7 linked regions of the Homo sapiens genome follow. The protein of the gene in region 3 purifies or fractionates together with the protein of the main gene of each other region. This does not show direct contact. Each region holds a gene or a part of one and is shown on either strand. Other genes may lie near its edges.

Evidence for each region.
Region 1: the proteins of ITGAV (region 3) and PTPRZ1 purify together in Homo sapiens (affinity purification with western blotting; 2 studies listed by BioGRID and IntAct, with this or other methods). This does not show direct contact.
Region 2: the proteins of ITGAV (region 3) and PLXNA2 fractionate together in Homo sapiens (co-fractionation; one large-scale study listed by BioGRID). This does not show direct contact.
Region 4: the proteins of ITGAV (region 3) and ITGB5 purify together in Homo sapiens (affinity purification with western blotting; 2 studies listed by BioGRID, with this or other methods). This does not show direct contact.
Region 5: the proteins of ITGAV (region 3) and OSTM1 fractionate together in Homo sapiens (co-fractionation; one large-scale study listed by BioGRID). This does not show direct contact.
Region 6: the proteins of ITGAV (region 3) and PTN purify together in Homo sapiens (affinity purification with western blotting, with the first as the bait; one study listed by BioGRID). This does not show direct contact.
Region 7: the proteins of ITGAV (region 3) and VDAC2 fractionate together in Homo sapiens (co-fractionation; one large-scale study listed by BioGRID). This does not show direct contact.

The regions. Positions count from the first base shown.
Region 1 is NC_000007.14:121,876,161-121,879,660, forward strand, and holds part of PTPRZ1 (receptor-type tyrosine-protein phosphatase zeta isoform 1 precursor), read left to right. Parts: intron 1-3,500. UniProt on the Homo sapiens protein: Protein tyrosine phosphatase that negatively regulates oligodendrocyte precursor proliferation in the embryonic spinal cord. Required for normal differentiation of the precursor cells into mature, fully myelinating oligodendrocytes.
Region 2 is NC_000001.11:208,234,385-208,237,884, forward strand, and holds part of PLXNA2 (plexin-A2 precursor), read right to left. Parts: intron 1-3,500. UniProt on the Homo sapiens protein: Coreceptor for SEMA3A and SEMA6A. Necessary for signaling by SEMA6A and class 3 semaphorins and subsequent remodeling of the cytoskeleton. Plays a role in axon guidance, invasive growth and cell migration.
Region 3 is NC_000002.12:186,679,229-186,681,401, reverse strand, and holds the end of ITGAV (integrin alpha-V isoform 1 preproprotein), read right to left. Parts: 3' UTR 501-2,173; downstream 1-500.
Region 4 is NC_000003.12:124,796,866-124,800,365, reverse strand, and holds part of ITGB5 (integrin beta-5 isoform a precursor), read left to right. Parts: intron 1-3,500.
Region 5 is NC_000006.12:108,054,242-108,057,741, reverse strand, and holds part of OSTM1 (osteopetrosis-associated transmembrane protein 1 precursor), read left to right. Parts: intron 1-3,154; coding exon 3,155-3,252; intron 3,253-3,500. UniProt on the Homo sapiens protein: Required for osteoclast and melanocyte maturation and function.
Region 6 is NC_000007.14:137,337,234-137,340,733, forward strand, and holds part of PTN (pleiotrophin isoform 1 precursor), read right to left. Parts: intron 1-3,500.
Region 7 is NC_000010.11:75,224,296-75,227,795, forward strand, and holds part of VDAC2 (non-selective voltage-gated ion channel VDAC2), read left to right. Parts: intron 1-3,500. UniProt on the Homo sapiens protein: Non-selective voltage-gated ion channel that mediates the transport of anions and cations through the mitochondrion outer membrane and plasma membrane.

The sequences.
Region 1 (3,500 bases), on a different chromosome or scaffold from region 3:
ATAACTTTCCAGACAAAAAATTTATCAGAATACATGAACCAAAACAAATTTTTCTTGACCCACTGAACAGGTGTATCTTATGGGAAAAACTACAGTGGCTTTCCTGTAAGGAGGCTTAACTATGAGTCATAGAGGAGAGGTAGATATTTTAAGAGCTTTTAAGGAATAATTTCTTCCAATTAATGAAGGAATTCAGGATCTTTGAATTAAGTGAATTATAGTGCTGCAAGGTACACTAAGTTCAAATGTTTAAGTATTATTATTAAATATGTAATGAATCAGATTCTGTACTTCTCAGTCACATCTTACTGCTTTAAGAGCCACATTAACAATAAATTATACCCAACTCCTCTGGAAGAATTAACTTCTTAATTTATGCTGGTTATAGAGTCTGAAATTCAATATGTTGTGACTCTCAGTTTGATCTATTTATCCTCTGAAAACAAATTGTAACCACATATAAAAAATATTCATGCCTTTTTCCCAAATAATAACTAGCCTCTATTCAGAAAATTAATTCCTTTTCATTGCAGAGTTGCAATTTTCTTTATTTCATTTCTCTCTCCTTTTTACGTATACTGTGGTTGCTTCCAGTCAGGGAAGTTTGCCAGGAGAAATCATTTCATTGATGAATTCATTTCTACTCTCATGTCTGCACTAGAGATTCAAGATCTTGCTTAAAATTTTATGTTGTGGGAATTTTGCTTCTGGCAAAAATTCAGGTTTTTCTGGAAGCATAAGCTGCGTTTTCTCATTCCCTTTAACTCCGAAAAGATTTGAGTACTGTCTAAAGTGAGAGATTTGCTTGACCACCCATTTGCTGACCGTTCAGACTGTTGCATGGAAATGGAACCCCCTCAGTCAGGACCAGAAGATCTCAAAGGAAGGCATAATTAAGAAGATGAGCCTGTGTTTCATTTTCAGTTACCATCTGCTCAAGTGTCTACTAGGTGCAGTTTCAGCACTGAGCATTTTATGTACATTTTCTCATTTCATTCTCCTCAAAACCCTTTGATATTGGTGTTTTCATCTTACACCTTTTACAAATGAGGGAACCCGGCACAGAGAACTCAGATAAGTTGCCTAACATCACAAATCCTGATTCAGCCTGTGTATTCCTTCCCAATCCAGAGCCTGAGGCTTTTCCTCTTTTCATTCCCAGGATCAATTTGCTGTTTGGCATTCACTAGCTTGCTTTCATGTGATGTGATGGTACATTTCACAGTCCCATTTGCTTTTCTGAGGATCCCTTTCATGATTTTGCCCATGTACTCTTGTATTACTTTTTTATCCTTTTTTGAAAATTAAGGCATAATTTACATTTTTACCATCTTGAAAGTTTTCACCGATGCATATGGTCATGTAGCAATCACTGTGATCCAGATACAGAATCGTTCCAGCCATGCTACTTTAACTACTCATTCACTAGATGTTCACTAAGTGCCCGACATCTGCAAGGCACCATGCTAGGCGCTGATAATTCAGCTATGCATCAACATACAGAGACTTAAACTCATGATGCTCACAACCCAGTTAATCTGATTCAATCCCACAATGAAAACTTTCTTTAAATCTTGTTTTAAAGATACTTTTTCTGTTCACAACTAGTCGAAAATAAGTCTTTTCCAAATATCTCTTAATGTGTTGAATATGTTAACTCTCAAATACTTTAAAATGCTTCCTGCTCCATTAAGAATTCCAATGGTAAAAGTCAGAGCCAATTTAAACAAGAGAGAGATATGTGTGTATATACATATATAAATGTATATATATGCATATACATAAAAGTGTATATATATATATGTGTTTGTGTATATATATATAAAATATATACATTTAAATTGTATTTCAACTTTTAGTGTCTTATTGAGATTAATTCCTAGAAGTAACTTCAGATTACAAAAGGAAACCAATTTTTCTCTGTGTTTAAAGAAATTAAAGAAATTAAAGAAAGAAAAAATATCATATAGCACAATCTTAAAACACTTGTATTTTAGAAATGTCCTGTTTAATACCATAGCCACTAGGCAGATGTAGCTATGTAATTTAAAATTTATTAAAATAAAACAATTCAGTTCCCTAATCACACCATCCACATTTCAAGTGCTCAGTAATCTGTGTGGCTAGTGGCAATCACATGGGACAGTGCAGACATGGAACATCTCCATCTGGCAGTGTTGTTTTGGAACAACAACAAAAAACGCTGGTAAAATAATGATTGATAGAACTCATGAGGAGTCATCAACTCAACTAGAAAAATTTCTAAAGTCATTGAAATTGTTTGAAGTGTTCGTGCATGTGAGTTAGTTATGGTTTGTGTTGTGTTAGCCTGCAAACATCCTAGAAACATGATGGGGCCTTTGGTAGAGCAGTAATAGGTGAAAAGAGTTCAGTGGCCACTTTGTAGCCTTTATGGACTGAGGTTGAACAGAAGAGATTAACTGCTGGTTCGGGAGTGAGTGCTCTGCTCCCATAGTACATTTTCCATAATTTGTTCTGTTATCCACTGTATTGTTTTTCAATTTATCTGTCTCCTTGACTCGACCACATTATTTGAGGGTAAAGAATCCATTCTTACATTCATCATTCATTCATTGTTAAATTCATTCATTGAAGAATTCAATGAAAAATTCAGTCAACATTGCATTCTTGAACTTAGCACTTACAGTAGGTGCCAATAAATCTTTAATGTATAAGGTTATAGAAAGATTGTACCATGAAGCTTCTTAGAAAAAAAAATAGTTGTTTGTTGTTGAGACTGGCCAATTTTCACTGGTCTTTCCCTCTTTTGATTATGATCTCAGTCCGGGAGTAAGGTCAGCATTCACCTTGACCTGTCCATCTTTAATGTCACTTCTGGTACGCGAACTTCACTTTCACTGATTCTCCCAGAAATACACGTAAGCATATAGGCATCCTCTATGAGGTTGGAGCTGTCATGAATGTGATTAATGCCTGTACAAGCATTACATAGATCCAGACACTATCTGTGCATGGAAAATAAAGTTCCTGTGATTGATACTGAGTGTGTACTTACAGAAGCAGTCTTGAGTGAGCTTTTAATTCTAGAGGAGTTGGCACCAATGAGTTTTGGATACATCCCAGGGGGCCAGAACATCAAGTCAGCTAGTGTGCCACTTTGTATGTGTACAAGTGCATGCGCCTGTGCTGCTCTGGTGTTGGGGAGGAGAGGGCAATGAGGGATGCAGGATGGTCAGTAATGAGTAAATAAAGTATCTTGAGCCCATGAACACTGTATTTTCAGTCAGCCAAAAGCTATCATATTGGTTTAAGTCTTCTCTAGTCAAGAAGGCCGTAAGAGATAGTGACACAAAACAGTTTTGAAAACCAGGCAAATGATGGGAAGTGCAGTTTTATCATGTGGATGTACGTGCTTTTGGAGTTTGTCAATAGTTTTATCATTAATCCTAGAGAGGATGTGCTACACAAGTTTAACTCTGCACATAGCAAATATTTGAACTGAGTTGAATTCAAATGGA
Region 2 (3,500 bases), on a different chromosome or scaffold from region 3:
GCTGACCCCATTTTCTGCAGCAGGCTCTTGGACAGTGCTATGGGATGTTTAGGACTCTCCTCTCACAGGCCCCATCCCGCACTCTGCATTTCCAACAGGGACAAAGCTCCTTGTGTTGCTTGGGGAGCTTCTTGGCCTACTAGAAGACAGCTAATGCTTCTCCCCAGACATCCTGCTAGGTTTTGACCGATGATCAGTGCTACCAAGGATCTGATCCCTGAGCCCCAGCGTCCAGCTTGGGCTCCTGGACTCCACTCCTGCTAACACACTCTGTGATGTGTCTGCTCCATCCATGTCCCTGCCCCCAGGAGCTCTCGTGAGATGCCTGTCTGCTCAAAACCAAGGAAGAGAGAGATGGGGGAGGTCACTGGGCACAGTGCAGGGGACAAGAGACTGGAAAGAAAAGGTAGCTAAGTGGGCAGATCAAGAGAGTGTGGCGGGTGACGCTGGGGCAAACAAACCTCCTAGCAATTGGAGGGCAGTGAATGGCAGCTTGCTGTGTGACTCACGGCAATGCACTTACCCAATTTGGACTTGGGTTTCACATCCACTATGTGGGCCTGGGTAAAAGCTACTCTGTGCAGGAGAGATGCAAGCCCTGTTGCAGCCAGGCAGCCAGATACCCATGAGCTCTGCGTTTTCTTATTCCATGAAGGGTTGACTCCCACAGCAATGCCAACCTACCAATCCTACGACAGTGTCATTCATGTACACTCTCAGAGCTCTGAAGGCACCAAAAACCCAAGGGCGGCAAAGGCAGAATTCAAATTCCAATCCCACTGGCTAAATGCTGACCACAAGCCCTGAATGTGGTCTCCTTGCAGGGCCACTATTGGCTTTCTTCTCTATGTCCCATCTCCACCAAGTCTTCAGCCCTTTATTCTTTAGCATAGAGATTTTCTTTAAATAAAATCTTACTTTTCTCAGAAAATTCCAAACAAATTTGGAGAGAGAGGGGGAAAATAACCCTAGTTTCGCTTCTTATACCTGTCCCAAAATTTAGAATAGTTTTCCTTGTTTCCAGCACTTGTCGTTTTTCCAACTTTCCTAACACCCTCTTCCCGGGCCTGGCTCCAGAAACAAAGACAAGTGAAGGTGCTTGAGTATTCATTCCATTATACAGATGGAGAAACCGAGGTGCTGGGTAAGGGGCAGGAGCCAATTCTGCCAGAGCGTAACTAACCTCTTATCTCCCTCCTGGGACCAGGGAACAAACGGAGGGTGAGCACCGGTCAACAGGTGAGAAATCTTTAGGAAGTGGGAAGGGCTACAAGTGTGAAGGCAGGCACTTAGTTCCTGTTTGATTCTTTGACACCAGGCTCTTCCTGACCATCTGCTCTCAACCATCTCAGTGGGGCCTAAACCTCCTGCAGGATTGTGCTGGGAGGGGCTTCCAGCTCCCCATGCAGTTCAGATCTTTCTCTCTAAGTCTGTGGGCCAAGAAAGCTGAAGAACTTGAAGAACTTGACCCCCTGTGGGTCACTCAGAGTGGGGCGGTAGACTCAAATTTTGTTCATTTACAGATAAACCTCAGGGGGTGGGGTGTTTGCCTTACAGAAAACCTCGTAGCCTGGGTTTTAATGTCACAGAGAGTGAAGGGACTTGTTAGAAAGTTTTAAGCAGCTGGAGTCAGGGTGGGGCATCAGTGTTGTCAGGGCACTGTGAAATCCCAGCCGGCCCTGCTCCTGGAAAACACCACTGCCCTAAAACGTGGAGTGGAGACCTGGAACGAGAGCTTTGCTGACTCACGAGGGGCCTCCTGCCTGTGGACGGGGAAGGAGCCTGGGTCTTCCTGTCTGGCTTGGGCTGGGCTCCCGCTAAGAACGCTGTTCTCAGTGAAATTCAAAAAATTGGCTCTTCTCCTTCAGGTATTTTTGTTCCTCAGGAGAAAAAAATGGGAAACCGGGGAGCAGTCAGGGGAGGTGGGAGGTCAGAGGCCAACGTAATATTTACCCAGCCTAGCCGAGGCCTTTCACTTTTATGAAGCAGGAAACCACTTCAAAGCAGCAACATCCCCTCTTGCCACTTCTGTCTGCCCGCTGGTCCTGCTGCCTCTATAAGGCAAGGCAGGGCTTTTCTACACACCCCTTCCTCTGCTCCTGAACCTTCCACCCTCTCTCCCTTAAAGGGTGGAGCACACTGCCTGGCCGGCTGCTCCCTCTAACCCCTGCTCAAAGGTAAAAAGACCTGCCCATAGTCACAGAGCAATCACAATCCATAGGCTCCGCTGACATTCTGAGCTGTCCCTGGCGTGTTCTCGTTCACTCAGTGAGTTGTCTACCACTCTCAGAAGCACTGGGGTTACAGCTCCTCATCCAAAGCCCTGTTCCACCACCAGAGCAGAAGCGGAAATGACGGCTAGGAAAGGCTCTAGAGACTGGAATCTAGTGGTTCTTTACATTGTGGAGGGGGCAAGAACTCCTTCTCTTCGGAAATACAAGACTACACATACCCACATCATTCTTGAAGATATAGAATCTCCAAGGTTTCACAGGCCTCTTGAAGCCCAAGTATGGCCCTAGCTCTGTGCTTCCCAGTGCAGGGGTCAGTTCCCTGACAGCATCACTGATGTGGCTCCCCCAGCCTCAGACGAGGTGCAGGGAGAGCATGACCTTCCTTTATAGGATTAGAGACAGCCTTTGAGTTGAAATCTTCGTCCTTCTAACCTTTCTCCATTAGCATCCCTTACCCTCTTTATGGACAGAAAGCTTAAAGCAGAATGGCTACCTTCTCTTTGAGTTGAAATCTTCATCCTCCTAACCTTTCTCTATTAGTATCCCTCTACCCTCTTTATGGACAGAAAGCTTTAAAGAGATTGGCTCCTTCTCCAGGTAGCAAGCACATGGCAGAGGCAGCCCGAGGAGTGGACAGCCAAGGTGTAGGGATAAAATCCAAATCTTCCCTCTCAGGTCCTTCCATTTAATAACTTCATTCAGATAAGAGTAGATGCATAATAGCAGGATTCTGGACACTTAAATGTGAATGTGGATGAGTAATAATATTTCCTGAGGCACCACACTGGCCTCTACACGCCAGCTCCAGAAGTACCAGAAAGGGATGCAATTTACATAGAATACAACACGAAAATCCTTGGGAGTGTGCACCCTGGAGTCCTTGCCGTAGGATATTGACTAATAGAAAACAACTCCAGCGCTGTCCAGTTTAAAATCCTCAGAGAAGAACGAGGGGAAAACTGGGTAGGTACGGGTAGCTGTGAGAGGCTGGAGACTGCGAGAGCATTAAATAGTCATCCTTCTTCACAGGAAACTGTGAAGTTCTCCAGCACCTCTGAGTCTCTCCTGGAAATCTTCACCTCCCATGACTTAAAGCAAAGGCTTTGAGGAGCTGTCTGCTCTCACTTCCTCTGACCCCCTAGTACACACTGTTAATGCCATTCTGCCTTTTACTAAAGGTATTTGGGGGTACTTGGCTATGCAATTTCTTCCTCCACTCCCTGAGTGTACTGTAAATGCCCTGAAGGTAAGATCTATTACTTTTTC
Region 3 (2,173 bases):
CCATAGGAATTTACGGTGGTGTATTATGCTACTTCAGTATAATTTCCCAAGCATCTCAACACTTAATTTTCTTCTTGGTACTTTTCATTTATAAAAATAGGTATTTTTATACTAGAATTGCATATGTATATTGCAACTGCATATATGCAATGACATATATACACTATAATTAAAAATTATAAAAGATGTAAATGTGCATTTTAAAAGGAATCTGATAATGTAAAAATAATAAAGGTTAGCATAATGAATTTAGAAATGTTTGTTTAGAAATAAAATAATTCTTATATTTCAGGCAAATACATATTTGCCTTTCTAAGGATGAATTTTAATGTGGTACATTTTGCTCTTTTTGTGTTTCTTTTCATCAAATAACTGACATTCAAGATTTGAAGTTTTACAGAAAGTTACCTCTGAGGTCATCCTTTTAGTGCATTATTGCTAGCTCATGTAATCAAAAAACAAAAACACGTCACAGAAAGGATAAACCCCATACACAAAAGTGGTACCATATGCTTATGTTTATTGTACAGTCACAAGTTACATGTTGTAAATCAAGCAGAACACTGTACCAGTTTTCACTAACTCAAATCAAGTTAGCAAATTACAAATTTTAGAACAGATTCATTTTCTGTCTCACCCAATGTGGGTGACCACAAAGATATTTACTTTCTATGTTATTAGGTAGCAAATTAATTTGATATACTACACAGCTTCCAAGTTACCTTAGGATATTTCAAAGTGTTTCAAAACTGGTAAAGAATAATTCATTTCCAGCCTGAAATACAATGCAGAATGGACCATTTAGGGGTAAATAACCTCACTTAATCACTCTTTCCTGCTAACAAAAATAATACAAATATTTGTTTATATTAGGCTTACTAAATTAATGACAACTTTGAAATTATCTAGATTTGGTTACATTGTTATATTGCACTTGAGAACAATGACAAAAAACATCAAAGATTCAGTACCTCTCCCAAGAAGTTCATTATATATCAGAAATTAAAATGAAATATAAGCATATATTGCATGCTGCATATTTCTATCGTTCAAACCAGCCAACCAACAAACTAAAAGGAATACTCTCCAAAACACTGAGTATTAAGTAATTTCATCTGCCTTTTTTGATCCTACAATCATTTTTCAAATTTTAGGTGTTTTTCTTTAAATTATTCATCAAACTACTACATATACAAGCTATCCAAGAATGCAAACAAGGTGACATTGAGATGGGTAGTGGCTGCACATAGGTATTCCAAGAACGACTCATTCTTCTCCACCAAGCTCATCATTACATTTTGCAACTTAGGAAGATCTGCCAACTTACAAATTCTGTTTGCCTTACAAAAATCGCTGATCTATTATATACAATACTTTTATCACACAAATCTCTCCCTTAGGGTCATGATTCACTATCAAAAATCTTTCACAGCCCTCTTAAGCCAGTAAAGTCTCTTTTATTAATACTTGAGTTTTCTTTATGGAAATGTAAGTGTTAATGAGAATTAACTATGAATAAGTAGTTTCATAACACAGGTAGAATGATGGCAATAATATTTTGACTAATTGTTTTACCTTTCAGATTCAGAATTACAGTGATAATCGTTAAGAGAAAAGAGAAACAGAAAAAATGACTCACATGTATTTTTCTCAAAATATCAATTCTGAAATAAATACCTATATAAAAATCAATATCAGTATCAATATTTCTTACCAATGTCAAATGTTTTTAATATCTTCTAGTTCATTCATGTTTTCTTAAAACTGAATCAGATCATAAAAATTTTACATTTCAAAATGGATTTTTATTCTCAATAAATCACAAATATGGTAGTATTTCAAATGTTTTAGAGATTTAAAGTTTTCATAGGGCAATTTTTTGATATTTAATCATGATAAAAAAAAATCCCACCATTTTCTTCAGAAAGTAGGCTTTCAAATTACTCTTCTCCATATTTTTGTAGATATATAAATGTTCATTTTTTGAAGGAAAATCTATGCTATTATACAAAACTATATTTCATAAAGGTAATTTAAGATATCATGTTAATTTCTAAATTACAGCATCTTTCAATCTCCAATACAAGATTACTTTCAAGATAGATGCCATAAAAGGAATAGATGGCACAAAAGCAAATTCTAACACTTTTGCCAAAGAGTGACTTTCTATCCA
Region 4 (3,500 bases), on a different chromosome or scaffold from region 3:
ATTGCTTTAACCCCAAGGCAGGCAAGTTTCCATGAGACAAGGTTATACTCACAGGTGTGTACTCCCCACAGTCTTTCAATAATTAAATGCCTTTGGCTCTTGGTCCAGGTCATTCCTCTGTAGTTTATTCAGTTTCTGACCCGCAGATGCCTCTGTGGAGCACAAGTCCAGCAAGTTGTAGCCCTAGAAGTACAGGGTTTCAGCTGTAACTTGAAGCAAGCTACAGGTAGCTTCAAGCATGTCACTGTTGTGGGAGCTTCAAGCAAATAGTAATAGGAGATGCAAGCAAGTTTCTCTCTGGGCCTCAGAAGGGAGGGATGGCATCTGCCCCTCAAAGCTCCATTCACCTCTGCATTCTTGATGGCCCCACGGGTGGCTTCGGGCAGGCATAGTCCCCACTCTTATCCTATCTGCAGGCTCAAATCGTTCCCAGCCCACGGCAGAAAGATGTGGAGATGCCTCTGGCCACCACTTTGGGGATCACCATCAAGGGGTCCCTTTAGTAAGCCAGGCTGGCTCTCCCTGCGCACCCCGATGAGGTAGACCTCATTCCCCCGTCTAGGAGGTGGATATGCTAAGGAGAGCGCGGGCCCTGCTCTAGGCCTGGCCCCACTCATCAGCTGTGTGAGCATGACTAAATCCACCAACCCCGCCAACCCTGTTTTCTCTCTGGTAAAATGAGGACACTTCCTTCTAGGGCATTTAAAAGAGATGCTTGTGGAAAAGTCCAGCACAGTGCCTGGTACATAGTAGGCACTTGGCAACTAATAATTATTAGTGTTTTGTTTTGCTTTTTTTTTCTTTTTGAGACAAGATCTCACTCTGTCGTCCAGGCTGGAGTGCAGTGACACGATCACGGCTCACTGCAACCTCCCCCTCCCGGGCTCAAGCCATCCTCCCACCTCAGCCTTCTGAGTAGCTGGGACCACTGGCATGTGCCAAAATGCCCGGCTAATTTTTTGTACTTTTGGTAGAGATGGGGTTTTGCCATGTTGTCCAGGTTGGTCTCGAACTCCTGGCCTCAAGTGATCCTCCCAGTCTGCCCACCTCAGCCTCCCAAAGGGCTGGAATTACAGGTGTGAGCCACTACGCCCATCCTATTCGTGTTATCCTTTAACCAATTTCAGTGTCCAAGTGGATTGAATCTTTACTCACCTTGAGAGACTCCCTGTACCTCGAGACCTTGGAACTTAGCCTTGGAGTTGTTTTTGTCAATCTCTCCCCTTTGTCTCTTCCTACTCTTCCTACCCCACAGAGATGGAAGGTAAGGTGGAGCTAGCCCAAGCTGTCTGCAGCTGGCCTGGTCCCCCGAGTGTCTTCTGATCCTGCTCCCCTAGCTATCCTCAGCTCACCTATCCAGAAGCCTCTCCTGTTGAGCCTCTTGGCTAATGCTGAGTCCTGGGTGTCTGTTGTCAAGTCCTTTGAAACAGCAGTTTGCTGCCACGCAGGACTTTCTGCAGGACTTATAGAGCAGGATCTATCCTCCTGCTCAGTCCCATACCCTCTCCCCTCTCCCCGTGTCCCTAGATGTCACAGCATCTGAGGGGAGGCCTTTTAGAACCAGTAAAAATCTCAAAGTAATAGGGATCTGTATGTTTAGAAACAGATATTTATAATGTTCTCAAAAAATGAACATCGTGGGCCGGGCGCAGTGGCTCACGCCTGTAATCCCAACATTTTGGGAAGCCAAGGCGGGTGGATCACTTCAGGTCAGCAGTTTGAGACCAGCCTGGCCAACACAGTGAAACCCCATCTCCGTCTCTACCAAAACTACAAAAATTAGCCAGGCATGGTGACAGGCACCTGTAATCCCAGCTATTTGAGAGGCTGAGATGGGAAAATCGCTTGCACCTGGGAGGCAGAGGCTGCAGTGAGCCGAGATGGTGCCACTGCACTCCAGCCTGGGTGACAGAGAGACTCTGTCTCAAACAACAACAACAACAACAAAAACATTGTTACCTGAAGATTGTCCAGTAAATCAAGTGAATGATGACATTTTAAAAATTAGCTTTAATGACTGGGCGCAGTAGCTCACACCTGTAATCCCAGCACTTTGGGAGGCCGAAGTGGGCAGATCACGAGGTCAGGAGATGGAGACCATCCTGGCCAACATGGTGAAACCCCATCTCTACTAAAAATACAAAAATTAGCTGCGTGTGGTGGCGCGCACCTGTAATCCCAGCTACTCTGGAGGCTGAGGCAGGAGAATGGCTTGAACCCGGGAGGTGGAGATTGCAGTGAGCTGAGTGCATGCCACCGCACTCCAGCCTGGCAACAGAGCGAGACTCCACCTCAAAAAAAAAAAAAAAAGCTTTATTCTAGCCGAAAGAATAGAATTAAGAATAGTAATAGCTGAAAGTGGTTTTTAACCCATTCTGAGCTTCAGAATGATCTGAGGAGCCTTTTGAAAAATAAAGACATTTGGACCCAGATCCAGTGAGTCTGTTTGTGGGGTGGGCCGGGCCTCTGTCTGTTCAGGGAGTAAGGGAGAACCCACCCCTGAGTAAAACTTTACAACGGCATTTCATCAGGGCACACTGGCCACCTGTCTGTGCGTTTTCATAGAATCCACAGTGACTTGCTCTCAGGGCCCTGATGGGTGATTCAGACCCCACATGGCTCTCCTCAGGGGGGTGAGGAGGAGAGGGTGGGGGAGTCAGGCTCTAGTTCCTGAATCAGACCAAGCCTCATTCTTGCTTTCCTTCCATCCCAGCCCTGTGGGCAGCTGACAGGCATCCCTCCCGCACCATCTGCCACCCATCCAGGCCCACCTTGAGCCTGTTTTCAAGGCAATCTGTGAGAAGCTCCTGAGTGAGAAACACTTCCTTACATATTCTGTTTAAAAAGAAAAGGTCTGTCCATGTGCATGGTGCATTTCATCAGTTGGAGACTCTTCTTTAAGACCTCAGGGGCATGGGGGGATTGTGAAAGATGCAGCTATGACAAGCACTCACAGAGGAGGAATTGGGGCACGGGGGACTCGGGGGTGTCTGGAGAGCAAGCTCTGGAGTCAGCTGAGCCCTTTGCCAGCAGGCACAGAGCCCTCTCTATGGCGGGCCAGGTGGGTGCCCTTCACCCGGCACCCTGTGAGAGTGCCATTGTGCCTGGCACAGAGGCAGCGCCCAGGAAATGTTTTTCCACCAAATGACTTTTTAAGTGAGCAGAGAAGAGGCATCTGCAGCGGGGCTGGGAAGAGGATAGGACAGAAGAGAAAAGAAAGGGAGAATAAGAACTGTGTGAACTCAAGGAAGCCCTATAGCTTTCCGCAGGGGCCCATTTCCTCAGGGTCATGGGGATGCAAAGAGATAATGAATGTTAAAGAATTCACCTGTCAAATGTGAGCTCACCTGTGCATTCTCTTCTCCATGAAGCATGGGAGCTTGCTGGTTCTGAGGTCTCTTCCTACTCCGGCCATCTTGGTGGTTCTACCTGAGTGCGTGGAGAGGGCTGGAGTTCGCAGCTGCTCTTCATCAAGGGCCCTGCCCCTGGGTGAATGGGAG
Region 5 (3,500 bases), on a different chromosome or scaffold from region 3:
CCCATTATATAAATGAACTGCTTTATGCTTTATGTTACCACCATCTAATGATCATTGAAAAAGTTTTGATGGTAATGCATTAATGTAATTATTAATAAAAGAAATTAAGTTCTTTTGTTCTTCAGAGAAGCTTTCTTTATAAATTGCTTTTGCAAAAGAAATTATTTGTTTTAATTAGGTATCTTGCATAGAAGAAATTTGCTATTGCTCTCTCATGATAATGCACTTTATACTACTTTTGCTGGCAGTATGTGGACCCCTTTTATCCCTATATTGTTATGTCAGTTGTCACGACATAGCTCATTATAACACAGATGTACAACTGTTGTGAATGAAATTGTGTTCCCTTAACTTCCCTGCAACACATCAACTACAAAAACTATATAATTGTTTTTGTAAACATGTACAAAAACTATGTAATTGTTTGTTTTTATTTATATCAACTCTGCCTCATCCCTAAAAGGATTGCGGGCTACTTCATGATGATATTAAACTAGCATTAAGAGGGGCAATGAGACAAGTTCTTACTCTTTCATGCAGGTTGGAATGCAGTGGCGCAATCACAGCTTATTGCAGCCTCGACCTCCCCAAGCTGAAGCAATTCTCCCCTCTCAGCCTCCCAAGCCGCTGGGACCACAGATGCACGCCACCATGCCTGGCTAATTTTGTATTATTTGTAGAGACAGGTTTTCACCATGTTGCCCAGGCTGGTCTCGAACTCCTGGACTCAGGCAATCCACCTGCCTCCCAAAATGCTGGGATTACAGGTGTGAACCACCATGCTGGCCTATTTTTATATCAATGGCTTATTAACTTGTGGTATGATCATCAGCATATCACCTATTTCTGTGGCTTAGTTTCCTAATTTGTAGTGATCCCTCAGATTTTTTAAATAAGGGTGAGAAGTTAGAATGAGATTCATGTTCTGGAGAAGATAAAGCTTCAGAGAATGTAGAGTATGTGAGTTCAGAGAGGGGACAACTCCTGAAATAGGTTTACCAAGAGGATCCTGTGTACAATGGGTGCAGAAGGAGCCCTGCACAAGGGGGCTGTACAAGGAGGTGAATGGGGCTGAATTCCAGCTTAGCTTCTGGAGGCAGGAATGACCTTTTGTAATTTATCTACCCAGAGGGAATATCTTTTTCTGATTTGCACAAAGGAGCTTTACTGTGCTGTCTGCCCCTGTCTACCAGGTTTAGGTTTCATCTCAGTTGCTAACTCTGATCAGTTGGTGGGGACTGCCTGAATCCCTGTATGGTGTAAGATATCTATGGGTAGTGGAGGGAGTAGGCAGTGGCATGTATTTGTAGATTCCGAGTCTTGAACTTTTAATGGTTTAGAATGTAGATATAAATATGTTTATTTTGCAGTGTTTGAGAGTGCAGGCTCAAGAATCAGACTGAGTACAGAGTCTAGCTTTTTACTTACCAGTTTTATGTCCTTGGGCAACTTCCTTAATTTATCTAAACCTATCTCTGTTCCTTATTTATAAAATGGAGATAATGATAATTTTTCCCTCATGGAATCACTGCAAGAATTAAATGGGCAAATGTGTTTAAAGTGCAGTGTAAGCATAGTTCTTAGAACATAGCAAGTATTTAGTAAGTGTTAACTTTCGTTGTAGTAATTGTTGTCTGTCAGAGTACATGGATGTCCCTTAGTGTGTCATATCCTAGTGTCTACCTAGTCCGTCTCTCTTTTCTCCACAAATTCTACTTGCCTTGCTGCCTTTCTCCTGGGTAATTGCAATAGCTTTGCATGTTGTCTTTCCACTTCCAGTTGAGAGAGATCCTATCTGATGGCCCTGAATTTCTAAATAAGGTGGGCATAATACAAAGCCATCTGTTGAAATTAAGGGGAACAAGAGTAGGGCTGGGACTAGAGATGAGAAAATATGTGGAACATCCCTTGCAGAGCAATTAGGAGGGCATCTACAAGGATCATTTTGTTGCCCCGAGATCAGAACACATGAATTTGAATTGAGTCCCTTCATTATCATTTTAGAATTTCTGTAGTAGTATTCTGTAACCAGACTGAGAGTACAGAAAGTAGATGGGGACTGTCCAGGGATGAAAATGGCTGTGAATATGTGGAAGATAAAGAGGGCAAGGATTCTAGGAGAGTCAGATGGAAACGACTGACCACAAGTTCCAAGATCTGGAACCAGGCAGTTGAACCTCGATTGGAGATAGCAGGCTGAGAACACAAGGAGAGGTAAAGACAAAGGTTTACCTGAGGATAAAGACTAGGTTCCCTGGCTGAGCGCAGTGGCTCATGCCTTTAAGTAATCCCAGCACTTTGGAAGGTTGAGGTGGGAACATCACTTGCGCCCAGGAGTTCAAGTCTGCAATGAGCTGGCAAATTGTGCCACTGCACTCCAGCCTGGGCAACCGAGCAAGACCCCGTTTCTTAAAAAAAAAAAGAAGAATAGATTATTCCCTGAAGAAGGGAAAATGGATACATAAATTGTGATATACACATACATAGAAAATAAAAGGGATGAGTGAACTTGAGCTAACTCTAAGCAAGAATAGCCAGTTGCAGAGAAATACCATTTATGTAGGATTTTTAAAAATGTAAAACAATTTTGTTTCTAGACTTTACTTGAAGCCCCCACGTCAGTATTTTAGGCAAAATTCTCACCAGTTTGTTTCTCTGGGCTCCCAACTCGTGATGGATTAGAAAGAGCGAATTTTAAAAGTTACCCCATTAGGTACAATAAATGACTCATTAGTGAAGTTGGAAGATGCAGAGAACTATGAAATTTGACACAAAAAATGATAAGGCATATGAGTTTCGGTAAAATTAATGCAGGGTAAACAGTCTTATGCCTAAATAGCACTGTTAAGGCAGCATTTGATAGCTGATATTCCGTGATTATGACCTTGTGCCATCAAAAGTCCATTTGAATTTTATTTGGTATATTTTTATGAAAAGAGAGTATGTGATTATTTTAACATGTTCATGAAAATGGTTATGACTTTTTTAACTTTTGGAAAATAAAAGGAGTAAGCTTCATATATTTGGAAAATTCATGCTTGTTTGAATAAAGAATTACTGTAGTGTGAAACGAAGCTGATAGCTTAAGATATAAATGACAACATAGAATTGTTCCTTGAGTTATATTAATATACTTTTTGAATTTTTTTGACAGATTGTTTAACAAACAACAGTGAAGAATTATCAAACAGCACAGTATATTTCCTTAATCTATTTAATCACACCCTGACCTGCTTTGAACATAACCTTCAGGTATTTTATATATAATATTTAAAATTAAAATGCTGCCTTGTACAAAGGAATAATGTGCAGTTCCAAGTTTTTAGAGCACTAATTATTGATATTTATCTAAATTCATGATGTAAAGGAGTTAGTGGACCTGGATTTCTGCTCTTAAGTAAGTTCTTCTACTTACAAATCATGAAAACCTCAGTTCTCTCATTGTAAAATGGAGATAATATCTATCCTGCCTATCTTAAAGTATTTTGTAATGAGAATCT
Region 6 (3,500 bases), on a different chromosome or scaffold from region 3:
ATTTGGGGTTTGACATGAGAGACAAATGGGAGATAAAATCTATTTATTAGCCTAAGAAAGAGATGGCATTATATTACAGAGGAATAAACTCAAACTAGGAATTTTAAGACTTTTGTTTTCATATCTGTATGTCATTGAATATGGCCCCCTTAACTTCTCTAAGCCTGCATTTCTGTATCAATTTTTTAAAAATCCCACTCAATCTACCTGAGTAGAGTTACAAAAATATGATGAAAAAATAAATGTGAAACATTTTTAAAAACAGGCCTTATAGCTACATAGAAGTTATAATGAAAATAATGCTTCAAATTACTAGCTTTGTCACTTTGAATAATATGGTTTGTTAAAGAAGAGGTAAGTAAGGTTTTCTCCATTCTGGAGGTAGTCTTGAATCGGCAACTATGAAAAGTTTAAAATTATCAAGGTGAAATATGATTAGGAAGACACTGTAGAGAACCAGCAAGCCTATATGACATTTGTAATGAAGGGAGTGAAGGAAAGAGAGTGGGAGAAGTTTCTGGAGGTTCAAAGTTGAGAATGGGAATGCTTGGGCTTAAACAGGAAATTGGCACCAGGTTGTTTGGTAAGGCAAGGGGATTAGGCATAGAACACAGATGGTCAAGGTGGGTGGAACAACATGGGCAAAGAGAATGAATGGCATTTAGAGCTGCCTATTTTCTCACTCATTTGCCATCTTCAATGGTTCTATGCTAAATATGCTAGGGTTCTTGAGAGAATGAGAGACAGCCCTTGCCTTAATAGGGTGCACAGGTTGGATGGGGTGGGGCTGGTGTCAAATGGTGAGAAAGGAGGAGCTGAAGTCACTATAAGGGGTGATGGGGAGACTTCGAAGACAAGGGAAGAAATATAGCTCCACCTAGAGGGGGCATTTGCCTTGGAAAACCTTTGGTGCCTTCAATTTCCGACTCAAGATTTCACCCAAATTCCACAGCTGAAGTACAAGGATTTGCCTTCTTTCCCTTCATGTATATGTTTTCATTAAAGGACACTCTTCTCTTCTGGTATAAATTTTCCTGAAAAGGACATCTACAGGGAGTGCCATGTCTTAAAAATTATATTGATTCTAAATAAACTCAGTCTGAATTCTTAAGTTGTCACTTCCAATAATTTGTTTCTGCTACGTTATGTGGCAAATGTGAAATGAAAACACGAAGGAATCAGGAGTTCAATTTCCCTTCCAGAATAAACAGCATTAAAGGAACAAACAGACATAATGCTTTTGAAATAGACGTTGCGTACCATTTAGCCTTTTGTGAGCTCCACTTTCCTTTTTCTCATAAAAATGTGATCCCTTTGTCATTGGAACTGCTTAGGGCAACAATTGTACATATCTTCCTCTAACCTGTGTTGTAGTAATTAGTGTTTTAATGTTCTTACATATATATTGAGTAGATCATTAGCTGCTTGAAGACATATTTATTTGTCCTGTTTCCCTCATCACACTACCTACCATATAGTATGTCAGTCACTATGCGTAAAAGTCTGGTAGGGATAAAAATAAAATAACAGGAAGTCCTTTACTTCAATCTCCTCCTCCAAATAGAATTGTGCCTGAATGATTTCCTTCAGTATTCATTGAAAAAATATTAAAAATGTGAGTCCAGAGCTCATTAGAGAGAATCTTCCTTCAATTCTCTTCAGATCTGAGAATTTTCCTTGTGAAGGAGTTAAAGCTCAAAGAAGAGTTGTGACAATACTAAAGCATTTGGAGAGGAGAGAGGAAGGCGGGAAACTGAAATATTTGGAAATAAATGTACACATTTGGAAGACAAGAAAAAAAAAAGCAAAACAAAACATGAAAAAAGGAGTGCCCAAAGAAATTAGGAAAACATTAAGACAATAACATATCAAGGAGGTTACAGTATGAGATAATCATAAAATGTTGGGATTAGCAATCTGTGACTTTTAAAGCATCTTTTCCAGAGATGGGTGAGGGTATAATGGATTTTAATTGAGATCTCCTTTAAATACATTTCTAATAAAGAATTTCACAAGTTCACACCACGTACCAAACACAAAGTATTAGATATTGTGAAACCATAGAGATAGACACCATGTTCTATTTCTTAAACATGCTACATTGTCCAGCACAATGTAGTATTAGGCATCCAACATACGTACAATAAATATTGTTAAATTGGCTGGCCACAGGAGCAAGAAAAATTGTATTGTTGGAGTAGGACCCCGAGACGATGTGATGGACATGAGTAACTCCAGCTGCGCCTCTACATTGATGTTGGGAAACTGAGAAGAGAATGAGGTCAACATTGCAGTGATGAAAATGTTGCCTGACCCTTAGGCAGGGTCTTGAATCAAAAAAAAAAAAAAAAATGGGGGAAAAATGCCATTGAATCAGTAGAGAGGGCACTGGTGTTGAAAACATCAGCTAGGAAGGTCCAAGCTTCCAAGAATGCCAACATATGGGCAGGCATTCCTGGTACATCCGTACATAGAGAAATGTATGCCATCATAGCAAGAGGGAATTGGGCAAGACGTTCTGGGACCTGTTGGGTGGGAAATAGTGGCAACCAAATTAATGGAGAAATGAGAGAAAAGAAGGAGAAATAGGTAAATGTAAAAGCAGGAAGAAAAGGGAGCAAAGGGTTAGAGACAGAATGCTATTTGTGTTTTAAAATTATGTTTTAGCTTTTGCTAAGAGCAATTCTTAGAATTAAGAGCCCAATTATCAGTTACTATGAGTCACTTTTTTCAAGATTAATATACAGCGCTTGATTTTTTGTTACACTATGTGTGAAGTTGAAAAAAATCTAAGACTTCTATTTTTAGAAAACTGGATATGATTTTTTTCTGTTTGAGATATCACTTTATCTCAACCCACTCTGAAAAAATGGTTCAATAAATAAAGCCTAGAAAAATGAATTAAATTTTATCCCTAAAAATATCTCAAACATGAAGGAGTCATTGTATTCCTTGTCCACCCTGAAGAAATAGAGATTTGTGGTGAATGTGATCTACATAATTAAGTCCACAATATTCCCATATTTATAATACCCTCTGATAGTGTTCCATCATAGCTACCCTTTTAAGATACTGTTTTAATTTCTTATTTACTAAATGCCAAAATAGAAAGAAAAAGAGGTTTGTTATATTTTACAATCTAGAAATATTGTAATGACACCATGAAAACTATGCCGCACACTAGACTGGCTTGAAGTGGATGGAAAAATAGCCCAGTGGGTGGAAACTTGAATTGTCCATAAACATCAGAAGGAAAAACAACTTTCCACGAGGCCATGGCCCAAATTCCACTTAAGCCAATTGACTCTGGATGGAAAAAAGCAAGCCCAGCTCATAAAAAGAAGGTTCATATCTGAGTATCATCTTACTTCGCCTCCCACAGCAGTGACATGACCTTGTGCCAGAAGGAGGCAAAAACTCTTCGACTATTCATTTAGAACAGAAGCCAGAGCTAAAAACATTCCTCACCCTTATGGAGAAGCCCAACTCAACATCACTAG
Region 7 (3,500 bases), on a different chromosome or scaffold from region 3:
CACAGAAGCATTCTGTGTTGTGAGAGAATAGTAGGAGAAACTGAGTTGGTTTTTTTCTGTATCCTCAGAATTGATGTCAGGATTGGGATTTGCTAGAGTGGCTCTAGCTAGAGTGGCTCATCGAAGCATGGTTTAGGAAGAAAAAGGATAAATGGATGGGAAATGAGGAACTTTTGACTCCTGGGTGGTCAGATGGTCACCCCTGCTATGGAGCCACAACTGTGCTGTGCTCAGGTACTTAAAAATTACCAGTGGAATTCAAAGATAGATCCAACTCCAAGGGAGTTGGTTCACTGGGTGCATAAGGAAACGCAAACAATAAGAAACAAACAAAATATACAATCCCTTGATTATTGTTATTTGTGATAGCTAAAATCAAAGTGAAAGAGTGCTGGATTGTACCTTGATGCTAGACCAAGCTCAGGTTTCATTTGGTTTAAGCCTTGGCCACCAGCCTCAAAGCCACCTTGCAAGGGTAAAAAGTACCCCTAAGACCTGTATTTGCTGTATTTTGCCCAGTTTGGAGAAATTTAAAAAGTCAGAAGTTAGAGATTACATTGAGAAATGTGATCTGAAATTGCCTGGGGCAGTAGTCAGGCTTATTAATCAAGATAAAGGCTGACAAATGGGGAAGGGTAGATTTCTGTTGGAAAGGCAAAGCAAATATCTCTAATTCTTACTGATCTGTAACGAAACTGATTTTTTTTGTACCATGCTCATACTGCCATATGGTAATATTGTTGGCAGATTAAACTCCCTTGTGTAAATAAGTCTTATAATACTGATTGATGATTATATGTATTGTGAAATTGAGTTGAAGCCTCCTCAGGATATAATACCTATGGAAAGTGACTGGCCTGAGGAGGAACTGGATCTCACTATCAGCTGATTTCCATCCTGAATAGTTCTGCACAAGGTACAAATAACAGTAGATCAAGGGAAAAGAAAGCTGGTACAAGATGATAAAGATGTTTCTAATGGCTTCTGTCAACCTAAAGGAAGAAACTAAGGCACAAAATACAATTTTAAAGAATTTATTTGCACCATAATGAGGACAGCTGCCCAGCAGACTCAGATCCAAGTGGATTTGAGCTCCATTTGGCCCTTGTTACAAACAGGTTTTTAAAGGCCAAAAATTCGGGACAGGATGTGGGCTGATACAAAGTTGTTTGGCAGGAATTCTCTTTGGTTTACAGAAATAACATTGATTAGTGATTGGCTATACATTGTTCTTTGTATCACAGATTCCAGGAACATGAAGATAATGGGTGAGGGTCACATTGTGCAGTAACACTTTAGATATTTGCCAGCGAGCCTGGAAACTACAAGGAAGGAAAAAAAGAACAAAGTGTTTTTAAACAATTTCCCCTAGGCATGGGGGTGTGTCCTGTGACTAAAGTCTCATTCTCATGTCTCTCTGGGCCTGATAAACTTTGCATACCTCACATTCCTCATACTGCTGAGCTATTTTTTTTTCTCTTCATAGGACCGAGTAGGTTTTTTTTGTTTTGTTTTGTTTTGTTTTGAGACGGAGTCATCCAGGCTGGAGTGCAGTGGCGTGATCTCGGCTCACTGCAACCTCCACCTCCTGGGTTCAAGCCATTCTTGTGCCTCAGTCTCCTGAGTAGCTGGGATTATAGGTGCCCACTACCACACTCGGCTAATTTTTGTATTTTTAGTAGAGATGAGGTTTCGCCGTGTTGGCCAGGCTGGTCTCAAACTCCTGACCTCTGGTAATCCGCCCGCCTCAGCCTCCCAAAGTGCTGAGATTACAGGTGTGAGCCACTGCGCCCATCCTAGTTGCTTCTTTAAACCTATCCCTATCCCACAGTAGCTTCTCCAGATGATAGGCATATTTGTGTTTGTACTCTTGTAGATATGTCTGTTATATAAATGCAACAAGTGTAAACATCCTTGACAGATATATGGACCTTTTTGCTGTAAGGGATCCCTGTTTGAAACCAGGGGGTGGCCTATGATACTATGGTGTATATATTTTGGTTTTTGTCAAGTTCCTGGCTCACAGCTTCTATAACCCTTGCAATTTCCCAAGTGACTAGAGCCGTAAGAGTGTATTTTGTTGAGATATTTGGCCATTTGTCCTCGGTTCCTGAAACAGCTCCAGAGCATAAAAGTGAAAGACAGTCTTTTGTGGGTTTTTTTTTTTTTTTTTTTTTTTAATGAAATCTCACTGTCATCCAGGCTGGATGGAGTACAGTGGCACCATCTCTGCTCACTGCAACCTCAACCTCCGCCTCTCGGGTTCAAGCAGTTCTCGTGCCTCAGCCTACTTAGTAGCTGGGTTTGGAGGTGCCTGCCACCAAGCCCGACTAATTTTTGTATTTTTAGTAGAAATGAGGTTTCACCGTGTTGGCCAGGTGGGTCTCCAACCCCTGACCTCAGGTGATCCACTTGCCTTGGCTCCCAAAGTGCCGGGGTAACAGGAACGAGCCACTGCGCCCTGGGCTATGTTGTTATTTTTAACAGGCCTCTTTCAACCACATCTGAACTTATGTTAATGAGGTGATTTTTGGATAGTCCCTAGATGGCCACATGGTAGGGGGTGCTGGTTGCTAGGGAACAAACCTTCTGCCTTGGGGAGGGCATAGTAGCTAAAGGTTGAGCCAGTGGCCAGTGATTTAATTAATCGTGCCTTTGTAATGAAGTCTCCTTTGTAATGAAGTCTCTGTAAAAACCCAAAGGACTGAGTCCAGGGGGCCTTCAGGAAGGTAAACAATAATACATTCATGTCATGGGAGGGTGGGGCACCCCAGCTCCACAGGGATGGAAGCTCCTGTGCTTGGGACCCTTCAAGACCTCACCTATAAAGGAAAAGATATATAAGTATCTTTTCATCTGGCTGTTCATTTATATCCTTTAAAATATCCTATATAACTGGTAAATGTGTTAGTCCCTGAGTTCTGTGTGCCACCCTAGGAAATTACTTGAACCCCAGGGGGTTGTGGGAACCCCAGTTTATAACCAGTCTGTAAGAAGCAGAGGCAAAAGAACCTGGAGCTTTCAGTTAGCATTGAAAATGAGGGCGGGGCAGTTTTATGAAACTGAGCCCTGAACCTGTGTGATCCGATGCTCTCTCTCCAGGTAGATAGTATCAGAATTGAATTAGAGAACATCTAGCTGGAGTCTGCTGCAGAATCGTTTGCTTGATGTGTGGGAAATTCTCCCTAGGCCTTATGAGAGTATAGAGGGAGAAACTGAGTTTATTTTTTCTACTCCTTATCACAGTTTCATGGTTTAACTCTTACTGTTAAATAATAGGAATTTTTTTTTTTTTTTTTTTTTGGAGACAGAGTCTCACTTTGTTACCCTGGCTGGAGTGCAGTGGTGCGATCTCTGCTCTGCTCACTGCAACCTCTGCCACCCGGATTCAAGTGATTCTCCTGCCTTAGCACCCCGAGTAGCTGGGATTACAGGCGCCTGCCACCGTGCCTGGCTAATTTTTGTAGTTTTAGTAGAGACGGGGTTTCACCATCTTGGCC